2 separate regions of the Homo sapiens genome follow, and region 1 is linked to region 2. The links come from fine-mapping of genetic effects on gene expression. A gene starts in region 2. The other region holds a variant in brackets. All regions are shown on one strand. Distances are from middle to middle. Region 1 overlaps EPRS1 (glutamyl-prolyl-tRNA synthetase 1). Region 2 holds the start of EPRS1 (glutamyl-prolyl-tRNA synthetase 1).

Region 1 (2,500 bases), 46 kb after region 2:
GCTCAAGAGATCCACCTGCCATGGCCCCCCGAAGTGCTGGGATTACAGATGTGAGCCACCATACCCACCCTTAAATATTTTAAAATAAATAAATGTTTTACAGAAATTTTTCTGCTTATAAGCAGATTAGGTGTGGTATGTAGACAAATTTTCTTGAAGTCAAGAGTATCATTAACATTCACTAACGCCCTTTCTAGTGGCAGGCATAGCAGATATAATTTTGCCCTGGACATAGTTTGTTCATATGGACGAAAGTTCATAGATTGGAAGTTTGTAATAAGGACTGTCAATTTTTTTTCTTTTTTTTTTTCCATTGAGGCAGAGTTTCTCTCCTGTTGCCCAGGCTGGAGTGCAATGATGCAGTCTCAGCTCATTGCAATCTCCATCTCCTGGGTTCAAGCGATTCTCCTGCCCCAGCCTCCAAAGTAGCTGGGATTACAGGCGCCCGCCACCATACCTGGCTAAATTTTTGTATTTTTTAAGTAGAGACAGGTTTCACCATGTTGGCCAGGCTAGTCTCGAACTCTTGACCTCAGGTAATCCACCTGCCTTGGCCTCCCAAAGTGCTGGGATTAGAGTCATGAGCCACCACGGCTGACCAATTTTTTTTTTTTCTTTGGAGACAGAATCTCACTCTGTCACGCAGGCTGGAGTGCAGTGGTGTGATCTTGGCTCACTGCAACTTCTGTCTCCCAGGTTCAAGTGATTCTCCTGCCTCAGCCTCTGGAGTAGCTGGGACTACAGGCACCCGCCGCCACGCCTGGCTAATTTTTTGTATTTTAGTAGCGATGGGGTTTCACCGTGTTGCCCAGGCTGGTTTTGAACTCCTGAACTCAGGCAATCCACCCGCCTTGGCCTCTCAAAGTGCCAGTATTATAGGGGTGAGCCACTGCGCCCGGCCAAGACTGTCAATTTTTATTTATGCATTTGTTGTTTGTAAAACTATTCTGAAGAGCCTCTGATTTGAATAGTAAGACAATGGACTATTTTATACTTCAAAAAGCATTAACTGGACAGGTGCAGTGGCTCACACCTGTTATCCCAGCACTTTGGGAGGCTGAGGTGGCCGGATCACTTGAGGTTAGGAGTTCAAGACCAGGCTCTACTAAAAATACAAAAATTAGTGTGGTGGCATGTGGCTGGTAATCCCAGCTACTTACAGGCTGAGGCAGGAGAATCACTTGAACGCAGGAGGTGGAAGCTGCAGTGAGCTTAGATCACATCACTACATTCCAGCCTGGGCGACAGA[G/A]TGAGACTGTCTCAAAAAGGAAAGAAAAAAAGAAAGAAAAGCATTAACTTAGTGCCATTGAATTTATCTAGGAATTCAGTGTTTATTGCTGTTCAGATAATTTTGTTCAAATAAACTATTTTGTCCCTTTATTTTCTTTTTAGCCCATATAGTTGCAAGGAAGCCCCGTGTGTTTTGATATACATTCCTGATGGGCACACAAAGGAAATGCCAACATCAGGGTCAAAGGAAAAGACCAAAGTAGAAGCCACAAAAAATGAGGTAATGACTTTTACGGATATGTGTATAAAAATAAATGGTCTTTCTATCCCAGGGTTTAGAATATATTTCTTTACAGATGATTATCTTTCTTACTGTGGAGACTGAAGAAGACAGTTAAGTCTTGCTCTTTGCATTTTGTTGTTATCCTTTCATGTAAGATTTTAAAATCTCACTCTCACCCAAGGCTGGAGTGCTGTGGCGCGATCTGGGCTCACTGCAACCTCCGCCTCCCGGGTTCAAGCAATTCTCATGCCTCAGCCTCCTGAGCAGTTGGGATTACAAGCGTGCACCATGACGCCCGGCTAATTTTTGTATTTTTAGTAGAGACAGGCTTTTGCCATGTTGGCCTGGCTGGTCTTGAACTCCTGACCTCAGGTGAAACTCCCACCTCGGCCTCCCAGAGTGCTGGGATTATAGGCATGAGTCACCGTGCCTGGCCAGACCCCTTATACTCTTAAGAATGATTTGCTTATGTGGGTTATATTTATCAGCATTTATCATACTAAAAATTGAGAAGTTTTAAAAGGATTTAATTCATGTAAAAATAATAAATCCAGTTACATGTTAACATACGAAAAGTTTTTATTAAAAAAAATTTTCCAAAATAAAAATTTTAGTTAAAAGAGCGGTATGGTTTTAAATTTTTACAGATCTCTTTAATATCTGACTTAATAGCTTCTAAAAACCTGTACAAACAGTCATGAGAGAATGAGAGCGAAAAAGACAAAATACATCGTAATATAGTGAAAATAGCTGTGACTTTGCAGATCCCCTTTAAAAGGGTTTTATATACCCCTTGGGGTCTGTGGACCACACCTTGAAAATTGCTACTATATATTATTCAATAACTCATGGAGTAAGCATGAGATGGGAAATTTGGTTGCTTTTCCCTCATTGGTTCCAGTTCCCATCTGTGCCTATCATTTTTTACATATCCTAGAAAGATAACTGGTGTTATGCTATAAGTTAGTATGTGTTCTTGAAAAACTT
Region 2 (2,987 bases):
AAAGCATCCAACAAGATGGTAACTCTAAGACCTAAGACTTTCTGCTATAAGTCCCACTATCCTGAAAGTAGGCTTCTTTTTTTTTTTTTTTTTTTTTATTGAGATGAAGTTTTGCTCCTGTTACCCAGGCTGGAGTGCAATGGCGTGATGTCAGCTCACCGAAACCTCTGCCTCCCAGGTTCAAGCGATTCTCTGGCGTCAGCCTCCCGAGTAGCTGGGATTACAGGCATGCACCACCACACCCAGCTATTTTTTTGTATTTTTACTAGAGATGGGGTTTCTCCATGTTGGCTTGGCTGGTCTCAAACTCTCGACCTTAGGTGATCCGCCCGCCTCAGCTTCCCAAAGTGCTGGGATTACAGGCATGAGCCACCGCGCCTGGCCTCAAGTCTCATGGGAGATGTAATCTAAGGGGCCCTCCCTAATGAAAACAAGGATGTCTTGGGGAGGTTAAGAAAAAGTGTAGGCGAGGATGTGGTTGAGATGGTTCTTGGAATCCATCCCGGGTCCCCGTACTTTAACACCAGCCCTTGAAATATGGGTGCAGCTCACACACACGAATGTGTGTATACACCTTGGAGTATCTCTGGAGCTCATGCATGCACGTCCGTCACAAAGGATTTGAAAGGGAGAATCAGATGAGACGCTGAAAAAAACACCTGTGGACTCCATGATTGGGGGCGGCATCGGAGGGTTTTTTTGTTTTGTTTTTTAGATCAGGTCTCTCCCTGTGTCGGCCAGGCTGGAGGGTAGTGGCTACTCACAGGCAAGTCCACGGCGAGGCCACTACAGCCTCATCTTCCTGGGCTCAGGCGATCCTGCCTCAGCCTTCTTAATAGCTGAGACTACAGGAGCGCGCCACTGCGCCTATCTGCAGTGATTTTTTGTTTGTTTTGAAACGGGGTCTCAGTCTGTCGCCCAGGCTGGAGTGCAGTGCCGCGATCTCGGCTCACCGCAACCTCCTCCTCCCGGGTTCAAGCGATTCTCCTGCCTCAGCTCCCCAAGTAGCTAGGATTAAAGGTGCGCGCTACCATTCCCGGCTAATTTTTGTACTTTTAGTAGAGACCCCCGTCTCTACAGTTTCACCATGTTGGTGAAGCTGGTCTCCAACTCCTGACCTCGAGATCCGCTCGCCTCCGGCCTCCCAAAGTGCTGGGATTACAGGCCTGAGCCACCGCGCCCGGCCTCTGCTGTGATTTTTTTTTTTTTTCTTTTCGAGAAGGAGTCTCACTCTGTCGCCCAGGCTGGATGCAGTAGCACGATCTCGGCTCACTGCAACCTCCACCTCCCAGGTTCAAGCGATTCTCCTGCCTCAGCCTCCCAAGTAGCTGGGATTACAGGGGCCCACCACCATGCCAGGCTAATTTTTGTATTTTTAGTAGAGATGGGGTTTCACCATGCTGGCCAGACTGGTCTCGAACTCCTGACCTCAGGTGATCCGCCCGCCTACACCTTCTAAAGTGCTGAGATTACAGGCGTGAGCCACCACGCCCGGCCTGCAGTGATTTTTAAAGAGTCTTTTATATTTCCTTTAACCATTATTTTCAACACGCAAATAACTCTTGAAAATACGTTCTTGTTTTGGAAAAAAAAAAACGGGGGGGAATGTATAAAATAAACAACGAGAAAAACTTCTCCCATTCCCAACGTAATCATGGCTATCGTGTGTATGCTTCCAGGACTTTTCTTTTTACATAAAGACAGTGCATGCTTTTGTTTCGTGCTTCACATAAACGCCTATCCCATCTTAAAGATGGTTTTACAACCTGCTGTTTTACGACCTGCTGACTTGACGAAGTGTCGTAAAGTCCCGTCCACTTCAGCGTCTTTCCCACCGCAGCACGAAAGGCCACGCAGGCCGTTCTAACCCTGGCGGCCAAGAGGAGGGGTAGCAGGCTCTGGAACCTGCGGGCGGGGACGAAGACGGCGCGCGACGATGTCGCACCGCGGCGTGCGCGGTGTCGGCAGTAGCTGCGGCGCAGGGGCGGAGCGAAGGCTGCGGCGGCGTCGGGTACGCGCACACGTTGCATCTTCTTCCTTTCGCGGGGTCCTCCGTAGTTCTGGCACGAGCCAGGCGTACTGACAGGTGGACCAGCGGACTGGTGGAGATGGCGACGCTCTCTCTGACCGTGAATTCAGGAGACCCTCCGCTAGGTAAGGGGCCGAGACCAATGACCTGTGTGGGTTGCATCAGCCAGGGAGGGTGCAGGGCGTGGAAGGTCGCTGCGCCCCGGCTTTGCGCAGTGGTGGTCACCATCTGGGATGTTGGACCTGCCCCTCGCCCCAGAATTGTACGTGGAGGAGGCTCCGCACCCCTCGCCCCGTGTCCCCGGCAGGTGCATCTGCTCCTGAAGATGGTTTTCCCGGGCATGGAGGGAGGCGCAGTGTGAGCCCGGGCTAGACAACACGAGACTCCGCTTCGGATCTTTTTCTCAGAGGGATGAACTCCCAGTCAACTCACCTCTCCCTTTTTCCCCCGGAGAGCGAGAGTTGCTCGTGGAAATAAGATTTTAAAACTTAAAATCCAATAGTCGTCGCTTCTCTTTTAGCATTTTTCCCCCAACTCCTTTTCTTACCTCCTTTCCTGTCCTGTCCCTCCTCTCAGGAGAAATCCTCAGTTCACTTGAGTCAAATTTTCCTTACGTTTTATCGAGTTCAGAAGAAATAACCCAGACGAGCATATTAGCATTTAGGATTTCAACTGAGGCTGCATTTATTTTTAATTAAATGTGGTAGGGTAATTGGGGAAAACACCCAGGTACACTGTAGACTGATGCGGTTGCTTTTACTGCACCCTGTGGATGTGTAGTAAATTTCAGAGTAAACATTGGATCTGTCACCTTACTGACACATCTTAAGTTCTGTTTGGAATTATTTTTTCGACATGACCAAGATTATTGTTGGTAGATTGCTTAGAATTTCTGCTTTTTCATTACTTTGGGAAATTACACAGAAGAATTTAAGTAGTTTGCCGATTTTTTTTTTTC

Evidence for each region.
Region 1: its variant is fine-mapped to the expression of EPRS1 in whole blood (TOPMed, PIP 0.98).

What each region holds. Positions count from the first base shown.
Region 1 is chr1:220,000,148-220,002,647 of GRCh38, reverse strand. It overlaps EPRS1 (glutamyl-prolyl-tRNA synthetase 1), which reads left to right. Exons shown (of 32, transcript NM_004446.3): 17 at 1,393-1,510. Among named protein-coding and RNA genes, the nearest start is that of EPRS1, 45 kb to the left of the region's middle. The variant G/A (reference allele first, on the strand shown) is at 1,250.
Region 2 is chr1:220,045,510-220,048,496 of GRCh38, reverse strand. It overlaps EPRS1 (glutamyl-prolyl-tRNA synthetase 1), which reads left to right and starts at 1,992. Exons shown (of 32, transcript NM_004446.3): 1 at 1,992-2,154. The coding sequence starts at 2,109. RefSeq lists enhancers at 1,781-1,850, 1,911-2,240, 2,282-2,839.